Homo sapiens: one gene and its partners. The protein of the gene in region 1 purifies or fractionates together with the protein of each later gene. This does not show direct contact. Each region holds a gene or a part of one and is shown on either strand. Other genes may lie near its edges.

The links.
Region 2: the proteins of C6orf15 (region 1) and MAEA purify together in Homo sapiens (affinity purification with mass spectrometry; one large-scale study listed by BioGRID and IntAct). This does not show direct contact.
Region 3: the proteins of C6orf15 (region 1) and PSMG2 purify together in Homo sapiens (affinity purification with mass spectrometry; one large-scale study listed by BioGRID and IntAct). This does not show direct contact.
Region 4: the proteins of C6orf15 (region 1) and NUCB1 purify together in Homo sapiens (affinity purification with mass spectrometry; one large-scale study listed by BioGRID and IntAct). This does not show direct contact.

Annotation. Positions count from the first base shown.
Region 1 is NC_000006.12:31,110,671-31,114,382, forward strand, and holds C6orf15 (uncharacterized protein C6orf15 precursor), read right to left. Parts: upstream 1,906-3,712; 5' UTR 1,886-1,905; coding exon 1,819-1,885; intron 1,622-1,818; coding exon 711-1,621; 3' UTR 553-710; downstream 1-552.
Region 2 is NC_000004.12:1,296,127-1,300,005, reverse strand, and holds part of MAEA (E3 ubiquitin-protein transferase MAEA), read right to left. Parts: intron 2,033-3,879; exon of another isoform or gene 1,891-2,032; intron 1-1,890.
Region 3 is NC_000018.10:12,709,278-12,713,156, forward strand, and holds part of PSMG2 (proteasome assembly chaperone 2), read left to right. Parts: intron 1-3,424; coding exon 3,425-3,483; intron 3,484-3,879. UniProt on the Homo sapiens protein: Chaperone protein which promotes assembly of the 20S proteasome as part of a heterodimer with PSMG1.
Region 4 is NC_000019.10:48,906,548-48,910,426, forward strand, and holds part of NUCB1 (nucleobindin-1 precursor), read left to right. Parts: intron 1-3,879. UniProt on the Homo sapiens protein: Major calcium-binding protein of the Golgi which may have a role in calcium homeostasis. Acts as a non-receptor guanine nucleotide exchange factor which binds to and activates alpha subunits of guanine nucleotide-binding proteins (G proteins).

The DNA.
Region 1 (3,712 bases):
CCCTTTTCTCTTTTCCTTTATCGAGGTCTGCTATTTACTCAGCAACTCTTCAAAGTCTGTGGTTCTGTGGGACACAATGTGCTAAATGATGCCTGTAAGGGAGGAGGTCGATGTACCTCCACTTCCAAGAAGCTTGACTTTCCGGGGAAGAAAAGACAAGTGAAGCGTAGACATTGCGACTTTTGGCTTCCTGTTTCTGTGAGTTGCAAGGAATCCTGTCCACCTGGCCCTGGAGCCGCCTTCTGGGACCTCATCCTTGCCCCCTGCTGCAGGTGCCATCTCAATTAGTCCTGCTGTCCCTCCTCCCCCTTTCAGATTCCAGCACAATTCTGGAACAGCTCTCCCACCTGGCCGGGGTGAGACTGAGGCTCCACCCTCAAGCACTTGGGCACTGATCCTTTGTGAAGGATGGGGATAGCAAGACAGCGTCTGCAGGGGCCCCTAGAGGGCCGTGGGGATGGCTAGAAAACAGGAATGAACAGACTCACTTCAGCTTATGCCCAGACTCACTTCAGCTTATGCCCAGAAACAAAGAAACCAAGGAGAAGCAAATTCCATAAGTGCTTTTATTTTATTGGAGATGAGCAGGGGAGGCACTGAAAAGTGGGGATAGTGCTGGAAACATGCTGACAGGGCCTGGATTGAGCCCACACAGCAAGGGGCGGGAGCAGGACTCTAACTCCCAATGTTGGGTTTCCCTCTATCGTGCTCTAGCCCCACTGCAACCTAGGGCTTGGAGGATTAGGGAAGCCAGCTGGGATGTTCCAAGAAGAGCCAGGAGGGCGGAGGACTCCAGGAGGAAATGGGTTATTGATACCTGGGTATAGATGAATATTCCCCCAGCTGCCTCCTGGATACCGATTAATATTCCCCCAGCTGCCTCCTGGATACCGATTAATATTTCCCCAGCTGCCTCCTGGATACCGATTAATATTTCCCCAGCTGGTACCTGGGGGTTGATTATTGATACCCCAGATTCCCTCAGGGTGTGGCATGGGCCTCGTTCCCCAACCAGTCCCAGGGCCTCCACCTCCCCAGGACACACTGGGATTCAGGGTACCCCAGGGGTGATCAGGCAGAACCCTGTGGATGAGAGACCAGGGAGGGCGTTGGGAAAGGATTTTTCCCCCGGCTCCCAGTGAATTAGAACGGGGCAGTCGTCTGGACTCCGAGTCCTGGTGGAGGAGTGAAGCCTTGGGTGAGAGGCCTGTGGCATCGGGAGAAGACTCCCCAGGCAAAGGGCCACTGCCCGGAGCGAGGGCCGCAGCACTGGAGAGGTAAGAGAGTTCTTCAGGCAGCGCTTCCCCCAGGCGGTCCTCAGCCGCAGCAGCCATCATCTGCCAAGGATCCTCAGGGGGCCAGGAATCCATGGCAGGCAGCCCCCACGATGGAGGCCACCTCTGCACTGCAGAACCTCCTGCAGGTGGGAAGCCATCTGATGCAGGCACGCTGAGCTTCAGAGGAACCCTTGCCAAGTCATTAGACCTAGGGTCCAGAGCGGGCTGCGGATGTTCAGAGTTAGAGGGGCCAGTGGAGGAAGGTTGTCCGAGCTGAGGCAAGTTGGTCCCCAAGTTTTGGGAAACTTTCTCCTCCACAACACCGATGCTCCGGGCAAAGAGGCCTGAGGGAAAGGGAAGATAAAGCAACCAGTGGTCTCCAGTCCCCGAGTCCCCAGTTCCCTTTGCTTCCCCTATGCCTATTCTTCCTTTTCCCTCAGGGACCTAAATGTGTACCCTCCTGCCTTTACCCCTTTCCTTAATTCCTGTTTCCTGGGGGACCTCCAGTCCCTCCTGCCCAAGGGCATCACGGCCTCCATACCTGGGAGATGAAGACAGACCAGGAGCAGGCCCAGAGGAGCGCAGCTCCCTGCCACGCGGCCCTGCATCCTGCTCAGCACCCGATCTCCCTCAGCCCCAAGACAGCCAGCCCTTTATCCTGGTAGTGGGGTGGGGGACAGCAGAAACAGGCTGGGCTAGTGGTTGTGAAGACAATAAACCTCCACATTCCACCCTCATTCCTAATGTGGTCTGTGGCAACAGGTGTCACTTGAATGAATGTCCCAGAGGAAGCTGGGTGTCTCCCGCCCTGGCTCCTTTCCTTGACCTCCCTGCCCCTTCTTGGCCCAGGTGTCCTGGCTCACAGCTCATCCCTGGTTGCCAGCCTCCCCAGCCCTGCTTCTCTATACACAAGGACCTCCACCCTGGGGTCCCACTCTCTTAATTGCCTCTCTCAGCAACAGAAACACTTGTTTCTTTTTGGGAGCTGGATTGTTTCCTCCCAGCACCCCTTTCTCATGCATCCTCATATCTCCTTCACCTTGGCCCCAACCTGCAGGAGGTTCTGGGGTGCAGAAGTGGCCCCATCTGAGGAGCTGCTCCTACATGAGACCCTGGATCTAGCTAGGGAAATGGACCTGGATGCCATCCTTATGAGATACTGACTAATTCCTGCTGCTGCAGTGACAAATTACCATGAACCGAATGGCTTACAACAACATGGATTTATTACTTTACAGTTTTGGAGATCAGAAGTCTAAAACAGGTCTCAGTGGATTAAAATAAAGGTGTCAGCAGGGCTGTGATTCTTTCTGGGGGCCTCAGGGGAAAATCCCTTTCCCTGCTTTTTCACCTTCTAGAGGCATCCTGTGTTCTTTGGCTCATGGTCCCCTTCCTCCATCTCCAAAGCCAAAATCAGCCATTTCTTACACTGTATCACTCAGACTTCCTCTTCTGCCTCCCATGTCCACATTAAGGGACCTGGTGACTACACTGGACCCACCTGAATAATCCATGATAATCTCTGTGAAGTCAGCCGAATAGCAACCTTAATCCCATCTGGAACCTTAATTTCCCTTTGCCATGTAACCTAATTCCTACGTTCCAGGGATTAGGATGTGGACATCTTTGATGGTGTTGGGGTTGAAGACATCATTCTGCCTGCTACTGGTGGTCAGATGTGCCATAGAGTATAAGAAACCTTGGGAGAAAGTGGCTATTTCCAAGTAACAGTAGAGGAGAGCCTTTAAATGCTGCTGTCAAATGGCCAGGACTTGATCCTTGTTGAAGCTGGGCGATGAGAATGTAGAGATTCATTAACAGTTTGTTGGCTTTTAAATATGTTTGCAAATTTTATTATAAAAATGCAATGGCTTTGTTCTCTCCATGGCTTCCGGGAGGCCCCAGGAGTAGGCTTCCCTGGCTGCCCAAGGTCTAAACATGAGCTGTTGGCTGATTCTACTGCTGTGTCCTCCCCACCTGCCCCTGCTGGCTTAACCACTGGAGGAGTGAAGAGCTCCTCTCCAGAACTGGCAGTGGATGGAGCCCAGAGGCCTTTTTGGATGACATGCATGAGTTTTACACAAGCTTTTAATTTGGAGCACAGCAGGAGACTCGAGGAAACACCACATCAGAGAGCCTTCTCTCCCTGCAATTCCCATTCATGAAGCATCTGAGGACCTCGATTCCTGCCATTGGCTGCAGATCAGGGGCCAGATGCTGGACCAAGGGTGATTCAATCCCTTTCTGGTCAATGTAATACATTTTTGCTGATTCCAGACTTGGAGTTTCAACAGTTCTAAATTCAGGACCAGACAGCACCACCCTGATAGGAGGGAATGGGTTAAGTGCTACAGTAGGGGTGAATTCCTTTGCAGCCAAGCAGAGGCTCTGAGAGGTGGCCTGGGGTGGGGGGTGGGGCTCCTACAGGGACAAGC
Region 2 (3,879 bases), on another chromosome or scaffold:
CAGAATTGCCAAAATAATATTTAATATTATTTTGTTCATTTGTTAATTGGAGAATTTATTTCTTCTCTATCCTTCAAAAGAGCTTATAATCCCAGTGGTCAGAAACAAGCAAAATACCGTTATGTGAGACAGCGGTCACGACTCACGAGGGAAAAGGGCAGAAGTGGGAGATGCTGGGGCTGCAGTTTCAACAGTGGAGTCAGAGAAGCTTCACAAGCTGACAGCTCAGCGAAGATTGAAGGAGGTGAGGACATGGGACCACGGACGTTGGCAAAGATTGAAGGTGAGGACATGGGACCATGGACATCTGTGGAAGGAGCGCTCCAGACAGAGGAAGGTGGCAGTAAAACCCTGGGCTCGGCATGCTGGCCTGGCTGAATGGCGGCAGAAAGGCCACTGGGCCCAGCACCCTACAGGGCAAAGGGCCTGGGAGCCACTGTAACGACCCTGGCCTTCATCCCCAGGTCAGGAAACTCCTAGAACAAAAAGACGACAGGATCTGGCGCTGGGGCAGCCGGGGTGGGCATGAGCAGAGCAGGAGCAGCCAGAAGGCTATTCAATATTCCAGAGAGAGATGCGACTTGAGCCGCAGGGGCAGAGGTGGGAAGAGCAGCAGCAGCTGGGCCTGGGCATGTCCTGACGCCAGGGTGGAGGGGCAGACGGGCTGGGCATGAGCTGTGACAACAGAGGCATCAAGGCCAACCTGAAGGTTCTGGCCTGACCAAGGGAGATGGAGGGGCTGCCCTTCCCGAAGAGAAGGGAGACTGGTAGAATTGGTTTGGGCAGCAGGTGTTAAGATGATAAGCTCAGATCTAAATATGCCAAGGAGCTGGGCATGGTGGCTCACACCTGTTATTCCAACACTTTTGGACGCCCAGGAGGGAGGAATGCTTGAGCCCAAGAGATGGAGACCAGCCTAGACAACGGAGCTAGAACCTATCTCTACAAATAAAAAAATTAGCCAGACACGGAAGCAGGCGCCCGTGGTCCCAGTTACCCGGGAGGCTGAGGCAGGAAGATCACCTGAGCCCAGGAGGTCAAGGCTGAAGTGAGCTGTGATCATGCCACTGCACTCCCGCCTGGGTGCCAGAGTGAGATCCCATCTCTAAAAATAATAATAATTTTAATAATAATAATTTTAATGCCAAAGTGCCTTGCCAAGTGGGTATGTTTTACAGGCTACTGGATACAGGGCTCTGGGGTTGGGAAGATACCTGCCTGGGAGTCATCAGTATACACAGAGGGTCCTATCAGTCCACTAGACCCTGTGAGAGCACCAAGGCAGCGGTGCTCACAGCAACACCCAGGGCCAAGGACTGAGCCCGGGGGGAAACGCGAGGATGGCGCTCTAGGAGCCCGAGGGGGTGAGCTGTGTTCCAGCCCTGTGAGAGGTCGAGATGGGCAGCAAGAATCCATCATGGGTCTCAGCAGTGTCTTGGGGTTACCTGGTGCCCTGACTATAGCACTGTGATGGGGGTAAAACCAGATGAGAAGCAATTCCAGAGACCCCAAGGCAGGGCTGGCTCAGACAGAGGGGACCTGTGGGTCCCGCACACAGTTAACCAGAAGACGGCGCGTGTGCCTCTTCGTGGATAACCAGAAGACGGCGCGTGTGCCTCTTCGTGGATAACCAGAAGACGGCGCGTGTGCCTCTTCGTGGATAACCAGAAGACGGCACATGCCTCTTCAGGTCACAGGGATGGGGCAGGGGGTCTGGTGCATGAACAAAGGCTGGCCTTGGGCGGGGCACAAATGACATATCTCCAGTAAAAGAAAGGAAACAGTGAGCACAAGCAGGCAGGCGACAGACAGGGCCAAGCCGCGGGCAGAGCACAAGGACGGGGCAGGCATGGGGGGCTCATGGAGAAGGAGGGGCATATGGAACAGTACCTGGGGTACAGGGTGCTAAAATGCCTCAAGAAGCATGGCTATGCTGCCAGGCAGTACTCGACACCCACTCCAGGCAGCAACCGGGTTCCTCAGCAGATAGGTGCGGCTTCTGTGGCCAGTGCAGGGGCCTTGCACAGCGGGGTTTCCATGCTGGAATGTTCTAGAACAATGGGAAGCAGAGAAGGGCAGGGGATGGGGCTACATCGCGAGGGGTGGAGGCAAGGGAGAAAGGAAACGCAAGAGGCTGACCACAGCCAGATGAGAGCACAGGCCATGAGACCAAGACATACTCTAGAATGCGGCAAGTGGACAAAAGTGAGATGCGAAGTTTAGGAATTTCCCAGACAGACGGGGGAGAAATTGGTTCGGCCAACAGCCATTGACTGACTCCTGTGCCAGGCACTCGTGGGTGTGACGTGAACGACGACAAAGGACGGCCCGTGCCCTCGCAGAGCAGACGCTCTAAAGGAGACGCCCAACCAAAGCACAGAGAGATGCAGGCGACCGCGTCAGACTGTGACGAGTGCTGCAAAGGAAACCAGGCAGGCAAGGGACAAAGGGCAAAAGGAACCACATCCTAATTTTATTTAGGGCAGCAATGAGCCCACACTCAAGCGCGTGCTCTCTCTCTATATGTATGTATACACACACACATACGCACGTACTTTTTCAGGCTCCTCCAAAGCTAGAAATGGCCAGCCCCGTGCTCTGGGGAATGAGCTGAAGTGTAAACGCTTGGGAGGATGTCCACTAAGGCCCCCACGCAGGGAGCTGGCCACGCAGGGCGGCACTGATTCCCCCTTACCCTCCTCCTGGCCGCGAAGGCCGCAGCCCCAGCAGCCATCGTGGACTCAAGGATAAACGTGAGAAACAGAAATCGAGAAAACCTCCGAGTTCTCGGCTGTCACTGAACAAGTGCCGGGGGACATCGCTGTCAACTGACTTGGGAAGGGTGGCTTAGTAAGGCAGGTCTGGGGCTCGTCTGGGGCCCCAAGGCCGAGATGCGGCATTTGGTTTTGCGCCTGGTATCGTATCTTTGAACTGCCTTCCAGACATGCGAAGAGAGCTCCGGGAGGTGACTACACGGGATGGCCTCAGGGAGAGAGGCCTGGGGAGGGCAGCAGTGTGGGGACAGGAGCTTGGAGACCGTCTGTGAAGCCACACAACCTCTGGAGGGCTGGCTGGTGACATAAAACAAAAGGCCTCCAAGACTAGAGAAGACAGCATAGGCAAGTGAGGACATGCAGCGAGGGGTGGGGAGAGCCCAGAGGATGGTGTCACGGGAGCCGAGTGATGGGAGCGTCTCGAGGCAGTGGGGTCCGCTGTGGACTGACCGCTTTCAGGAGCATCATCCTGTCCTCAAGAGGAACATCTGGGTGGAGTGTTGGGGGGCAAAAATCTGATTTAGGTAAAACAGGAAGAGAGACATGAAGGGGCAGAGACAGGGAGTAGTAGCTGGAGGAGGACGGGGGCAAGGAAGGGGTTTTCACGAGAGGAAGACTCAGAGCCACGTGCACACCAGGGAGCTGCACAGCCAATGGGAAAACCGACCAACAGAGAGAGAACCAAGTGCAGGAGCAGCCACAAGGCAAAGGGCACAGCACAGGTGAGGGGGGCACAGCGCAAGTGAGGGAGGCACAGGCACGGGTGAGGGGGGCACAGGCACGGGTGAGGAACGGCACAGGCATGGGTGAGGGGTACAGGTGAGGAATGGCATGGGTGACGGCTGCACAGGCACAGGTGAGGGGGGCACAGGTGCGGGTGGGGGGGCACAGGTGAGGGTAGCATAGGTGAGGTGCAGATGTAGGTGGGGGGCGCACGTGAAGGTGGTGCAGGAGCAGGTGAGGGAGGAGCAGGTGAGGGAGGAGCAGGTGAGGGGGGCACAGGCACAGGTGGGGGGCACAGGTGAGGGCAGCACAGGTGAGGGCAGTGCAGACGTGGGTGAGGGGGGCACAGGTGCGGGTGGGGGGGCACAGGTGAGGGTAGCAT
Region 3 (3,879 bases), on another chromosome or scaffold:
CTCGTGATCTGCCTGCCTCAGCCTCCAAAGTGCTGGGATTACAGGCGTGAGCCACCGCGCCCGATTTGAGATGGAGTCTCACTCCGTCACACAGGCTGGAGTGTGGTGGCGGGATCTCGGCTCACTGCAACCTCTGCCTCCTGGGTTCAAGAGATGCTCCTGCCTCAGCCTCCCAAGAAGCTGGGATTGTAGGCACTCACCACACACCCAGCTAATTCTTGTATTTTTTTTTTTTTTTGACAGAGAGTTTTGCTCTTGTTGCCCAGGCTGTAGTGCAATGCCACGATTTTGGTTCACTGCAACCTCCACCTCCCGGGTTCAAGCAATTCTCTTGCCTCAGCCTCTGGAGTAGTTGGGATTACAGGTCCACGCCCCCACGCCCAGCTAATATTTTGTATTTTTAGTAGAGATGAGGTTTCACCATGCAAGTCAGGCTGGTGTTGAACTCCTGACCTCAGGTGATCCAACCACCTTGGCCTTCCAGAGTGCTGGGATTACAGGCGTGAGCCACCACGCCTGGCCTAATTTTTGTATTTTTAGTAGAGACAGGGTTTCACCATGTTGGCCAGGTGGGTCTTGAACTCCTGACCTCAGGCAGTTCACCCGCCTCAGCCTCCCAAAGTGCCGGAATTACAGGTATGAGCCACCACGCCCAGCCCTCATAAACTTTTTTTTTTTTTTTTGAGATGGAGTCTTGCTCTGTCGCCCAGTCTGGAGTGCGGTGGCACGATCTCGGCTCACTGCAAGCTCTGCCTCCCGGGTTCACGCCATTCTTCCGCCTCAGCCTCCCAAGTAGCTGGGACTACAGACACCCGCCATCACGCCCGGCTACTTTTTTTGTATTTTTAGTAAGACGGGGTTTCACTGTGTTAGCCAGGATGGTCTCCATCTGCTGACCTCATGATCTGCCCGCCTCAGCTTCCCAAAGTGCTGGGATTACAGGTGTGAGCCACCACGCCCGCCCCTTTTAAAGCATCTGTGATTTCACCATTTATCTACCCAAGCTTCACCATAAATTTGATGTTCTTGCTTCAGTTTAAGCAGAATTCATGTTGCTGTGATAGGGGCACTTAATGCCTTATCCTTCTTAGTGCCTCAAACCAGATCCTTTTCAGGCGTGTTACAGCAAGTCAGTACAAGTTTATTTTGGTGCAAAATGTTTTCGTAAGTACACATTTCCTGTGAACTTTTTGAAGACCCCTCATATATCCGATTGTTGTGCTGTGCCCTTGAAATCTCTTTTACTCTAGAGCAGTCCCTTTTTTTTCATCACAAACCGATTTATTGAAGAAAAGACTAGGTGTATTGTTTTGTACAATGTCCCACCTTCTGATTTGTCTGATTACGTCCTCTTGTCACTTGGCTTGTTGTTCTAGCCCCTGTGTTTTCTGTAACTGGAGTTAGCTCTAAAGGCTTGATTAGATAAAAGGTTAATGTTTTGGGGCAGAATACAGAAAAGGTGTTGTTGCTTTCGTAATGTATCACATCAGAAGAAAAAAGTACTAGGAAACAGGAACCTAACAACAAAAAGAATTGCATAGGCCGGGCACGGTGGCCCATGCTAGTAATCCTAGCGCTTTGGGAGGCCAAGACGGGTGGATTGCCTGAGCTCAGGAGTTCGAGACCAGCCTGGGTAACATGATGAAACTCTGTCTCTACTAAAATACAAAAAATTAACCCGTTGTGACGGTGTGCATCTGAAATCCCAGCTACTCAGGAGGCTGAGACAGGAGAATCGCTTGAACCCAGGAGGTAGAGGTTGCAGTGACCCGAGATCACACCATTGTACTCCAGTCTGGGTGATAGAGCAAGACTCTGTCTTAAAAAACAAACAAAAAACAAAAATTAGCCAGGCGTGGTGGTGTGCTCCTGTAATCCCAGCTACTTGAGAGGCTGACACACAAGAATCACTTGAACCTGGGAGGCAGAAGTTGGAGTGAGCCGATATCGCACCACTGCACTTCAGCCTGGGTGACAGAGCGAGACTCTGTCTCAAAAAAAAAGAATTGTATGATACGCTGATGAGGAGAGTATTGCTATCACCGAAGAAGTGGTAGCTTACATTTTAAAAAGCTTAGCCTGTCCACCCCCTACAGATACATTCTTTTCAAACCTAGGTCAGTTGAATTGGACTACATGTGTTTGTCACAGATAGGTTAGAGGCTGAGTAATCTTTGCCTTAGTCTCTTTTCCCTAAATTTATACCCTTTTCCCTAATTCCTAAACTTCCTTTGGACTGAACATACCTGGTGCTTGCTAGATTTGCTGAGTTCAGCATACCCCCCAGTCACACCACATCACGCCAGCCATAGGAGACAATTTCCGAAAGACCTGTAACAGTAGAGACCTGATCCACCAAAGGATTTGCTGTTATTTGCAATCTGTTTATGGTAACCAACACTTACCCCTTAGCACAGTAGTAATCCTGTGTCCTTAGAGAGTATTTTATCCCTGACTCAGGAGCTTCTCATTCTTTTTTTTTTTTTTTTTTTTTGAGATGGAGTCTTGTTCTGTTGCCCAAGCTGGAGTGCAGTGGCGCGATCTCTGCTCACTGCAAGCTCCGCCCCCCGGGTTCACGCCGTTCTCCTGCCTCAGCCTCCTGAGTAGCTAGGACTACAGGTGCCCGCCGCCAAGCCTGGCTAATTTTTTTATTTTTTAGTAGAGACGGGGTTTCATTCACCATGTTAGCTAGGATGATCTTGATCTCCTGACCTTGTGATCCACCTGCCTCAGCCTCCCAAGGTGCTGGGATTACAGGCGTGAGCCACCATGCCCAGCTGCTTCTCATTCTTAGAAATGAAGTTGGGCAGGGAAGCCTTAAGCATTTCTAGAGTGTGCCCCTTGTAGAACCTGATGAAAGCTATGGATCCTTTTCCCAGTAAAAAATACAAACACATTGACTCACATGACATTTTATGTTATTTCAGATCCTTTAAAAAGTTCTAAGGAACACACATGTACCTATTTCAGGATTTTATTACATGGCTAACATTCTCCTACCTTTTACTGTTTTTTCTGTTAATCCCAATGAGTGTTGCTGTTCTCTGGAGACAAAGAGGGGAGAATATCAAAAGCCAAAAAGTTCAGTTTTCTTAAGGATGATTTTATTTGTCATAATACCAGAAATTTTCAGGGGAATACTTCTCTGGTTTTGCAGTTAAAGTCAAAAGAAAAATAATTTTTTATATTTTCTTACAGTTAACTTTTCAGAAATGAATCTGTTCCATAGAATAAAGCCCACTGGCTTATTTTAAGGTACTTCTAAAAGGTCTTATTTTAACCAGATGTCATATATGTTCCGTATTTTAATTATTGAAAACATTTAAATGCAAAAGGTATTATAATTCAATTTTTGTTTATCATAATAATTTCAACTTGTATAACTTCACTGTCATATGATTTCATTTTCTTCTTGTTTTTATAGTGTATTCATTGCCTTCAAGAAAGCTGGTGGCTCTACAGTTAAGATCCATTTTTATTAAGGTTAGTATGTTGTAGTTTGCCTTTTTGTTTATTAAAGTGTAATGAGAAAATAAGTAACATTAGGGATTAAGATTCAAAAATTACTACTGTTTTTACCATATGTACAGTTAAGATCTGATTCTACAGAGAAATAATCTTACAATATTTCAGATGTGTTACTGTCTTTTCATGATTATATAGAAAGGAAGCAGGGCTTTTATCTTGAGTGTTAACATATTTTCAGTTCGGGTAGCATTGGTGAAAAAATGTAAGCATATTAATATTAGAGGTTTATTCCATTTGTATTACCTTTCAGCTGGTGGCATCTACATATAAACTATGTATATATCAAATTATGTATATGTCATAAAATATTCTGAATCCGACTTCTTTCCTCCTCCACTGCTGTCATTGAGT
Region 4 (3,879 bases), on another chromosome or scaffold:
CCTGTCTCTATAAAAAATATTAAAAAATAAGCTGGGCATGGTAATGCATGCCTGTGGTCCCACCTCCTTAGGAAGCTGAGGTGGGAGGATCGTTGAGCCTGGGATGTCAAGGCTATAGTGAGCCATGACTGCGCCACTGTACTCCAGCCTGGGCGACAGAACAAGATCCCATCTCAAAAAAAAAAAGTTGAAAGAACTTCAAACTTTTAGAAAAGTTGTAAGAGTAGTACAGAAAACTCCCAAACACCCCTGACCTGGCTTCTCTAGTTAACATTTGCTCCATTTGCTTTGTCACTCACGTTTGGGACTTCACCACAGTCACCATCTCATCACCCTTACACATTTCAGTGTGATACTCTTGCATAAGTACAGCGATAAAATCGGGAGATTTATCAGGTCACACTGTTTTTCCTTGCTCAGCTAATATCTTTCTTTTTTTTTTTTTGAGACAGAGTCTCGCTCTGTCACCCAGGCTGGAGTGCAGTGGTGCAATCTCGGCTCACTGCAAGCTCCGCCTCCTGGATTCACGCCATTCTTGTGCCTCAGCCTCCCAAGTAGCTGGGACTACAGGCGCCCGCCACCATGCCCAGCTAATTTTTTGTATTTTTAGTAGAGACGGAATTTCACTGTATTAGCCAGGATGGTCTTGATCTCTAACCTCGTGATCCGCCCACCTCGGCCTCCCAAAGTGCTGGGATTACAGGTGTGAGCCACCGCGCCTGGCCTTTTTTTTTTTTTTTTTTGGTGAGACAGAATCTTGCTCTGTCTCCCAGGCTGCACTACAGTGGCGCGATCTCGGCTCACTGCAACCTCCGCCTCCTGGGTTCAAGCAATTCTCCTGCCTCAGCCTCCCAAGTAGCTGGGATTACAGGTGTGTGCCACCACACCTGGCTAATTTTGTATTTTTAGTAGATACTTGATTTTGCCATGTTGGCCAGGCTGGTCTTGAACTCCTGACTTCAAGTGATCCTCCTGTCTCGGCCTTCCAAAGTGCTGGGATTACAGGCCTGAGCCACCAGCCTTGGCCCCCATCTTAAGGTCTTTAATGTAATCCCATCCGCCAGGACCCCTTAGCCCGGAAAGGTCACGCATTCACAGGTTCCGGGGATCAGGATGTGGATATCTTTTAGGGCACCAGTATCCAGCTGCCACAACACCCAGGCTCTTCCCGTCCCTCCTCTGCCCAGAGCCTGCCCCCGGCACCCCAGTGCCCTCAGGCCCGCATTCATGTTCCTCTTGTCTGCTCGGAGCCTGGGTGGACCTTGGCCACACCCGCCCAACCCTGCCCTTCCCGTATGCACCCTGACCTTCTTGCGTCAGCATTTTTAGAAATTGCTGGCGTGCAGCCTTGGGACCTTTGTCCGTTCGCCCCGCTCTCCCGTGACATTCTTTCTCAGGGCTCTTTGCCTGGTCCATGGACCTTCCATCTCCCCTGGAATGTCACCTCCTCAGGGTGTCACCGCCCCGGCTGTCCTGTGTGAAGGAGCCTCTGTGTTATTTGTGTCCTTGGTATTCCTTTGTTCATCCCTTGGTCGCCTGTTCTCTGTCTCTCTAGACTGGGTGCTCCAAGAGGCAGAACTCTTTTGGTTGTTGTTGTTTTTGAGACAGAGTCTCACTCTGTCGCCCAGGCTGGAGTGCAGTGGCGCGATCTCGGCTCACTGCAACCTCTGCCTCCCAGGTTCAAGCGATTCTCCTGCCTCAGCCTCCTGAGTATCTGGGATTACAGGTGCCCGCCACCATACCTGGCTAATTTTGTATCTTTAGTAGAGACAGGGTTTCACCATGTTGGCCAGGCTGGTCTCAAACTCCTGACCTCAGGTGATCCACCCGCCTCAGCCTCCCAAATTGCTGAGATTACAGGCATGAGCCACCCCGCCTGGCCTCCAAGAGTCAGAATTCTGTCATCATTTGATTCCTGCTGTGTCCATAGCGGCCGGCGCTGGGTCAGCCTGGAATAGCGGCTCAACACACGTCCCTGGCACAAATAATGAATTTGAGATTCAGTTTGTACCTGTGTCCTGCACACCTGTCACTCCTCTGGGCTCAGCCAGGGCCGGAGCTGCCTCCACTGCAGCCTAGGTCTCCCAAATTCTAGCTGCCCGTGTGTGTGTGTGTGTGTGTGTGTGTGTGTGTGTGTGTGTGTGTGTGTGTCTTTCTGCCCACTTGACCAAGGGGTGTGTGTGTGTGTGTGTGTGTGTGTGTGTGTGTGTGTGTGTCTTTCTCCCCACCTAACCAAGGGCCACTGGAGGCCAGGGCCAGGCTGATTCATTTTGGGTCCAGCATTGCACAGCGCAGGCCTGGGCCCCTAGAAGCCTCGGGAGACATGCGTGCGGTAAGTGTGTGTTGGCAGCGTGTGCGCTGTCCTTTCCTGCCTGGAAACCCTACCCCTTCCTGACTACTTGGAAACTCCCATATGAGGGAGGCTGCACTTGTTTGCTGAGGCCGCTGTAACCAAGTACCACTGACCAGGTGCTTCAGCAACAGAACTTGACTGTCTCATGGCCTGCAGTCAGAGTCCAAAGTGAAAGTATTGGCAGGGTTGGTTCCTTCTGGGGCTATGAGGGAGGATCTGTACCAGGCCCCTCTCCTTGGCTTGCAGATGGCCGTCTTCTCACTGCATTTTCACACCATCTTTCCTCTCTGTGTGCCTGGCCCAAATTTCTCCTTCCATTATTATTTTTTATTAATTATTATTATTATTATTTTTTTTTTTTTCCAAGACAGAGTTTTGCTCTCGTTGCCCAGGCTGGAGTGCGGTGGCGCGATCTCAGCTCACTGCAACCTCTGCCTCCCAGGTTCAAGCGATTCTCCTGCCTCAGACTCCTAAGTAGCTGGGATTACAAGCACGCGCCACCACGCCTGGATAATTTTGTATTTTTAGTACAGATGGAGTTTTGCCATGTTGGGCAGGCTGGTTTCGAATTCCTGACCTCAGGTGATCCACCCGCCTTGGCCTCCCAAAGTGCTAGGATTACAGGTGTGAGCCACCGCGCCCGGCCTATTATTATTTTGAGACAGGGTTTCACTTCTATCCTCCAGGCTAGAGTGCAGTGGTGCGATCTCGGCTCACTGCATCCTCCCCCTCCCACGCTCAAGTGATTCTCCTGCCTTAGCCTCCTGAGCAGCTGGGACTACAGGCACACACCACTGCACACAGCTAATTTTTATATTTTTTGTAGAGATGGGGTTTCACCATGTTGCCCACGCTGGTCTCGAATGCCTGAGCCCAAGTGATCCTCCCACCTCAGTCTCCCAAAGTGCTGGGATTACAGGCATGAGCCACTGTGCCCAGTCATAAATTTCTGCCTTTTATAAGGTCACCAATCATGTTGGATTAGGGCCCACAGTAATGACCTCATCTTAACCTGATTCCCTCTGTAAAGACCTAGTCTCCAAATCAGGTCACATTCTGAGGTACTGGGGCTTAGGACTTCAACATAGAAACTTAGGAGCGTGCAATTTAACCCCTAAGATTGGTTGATGCTTTATCAAAAATTTTGATGTTTTTCTTTTGTTTGTATGTATGTATTTATTTTATTTATTTATTTTTCAGACGGAGTCTCACTCTGTCACCAGGCTGGTGCAGTGGCGTGATCTCGGCTCACTGCAACCTCCGCCTCCCAGGTTCCAGTGATTCCCCTGCCTCAGCCTCCCAAGTAGCTGGGGCTACAGGTGCGCACCACCATGCCCAGCTAATTTTTTATGTTTTTATTAGAGATGGGGTTTCACCATGTTGGCCAGGATGGTCTCAATCTCTTGATCTTGTGATCCGCCCCCCTTGGCCTCCCAAAGTGCTGGGATTACAGGCGTGAGCCACCGCACCCAGCCTTGTTTGTTTTTTTTAAAGAGTGGTTGAGGCTGGGCGTGGTGGCTCACACC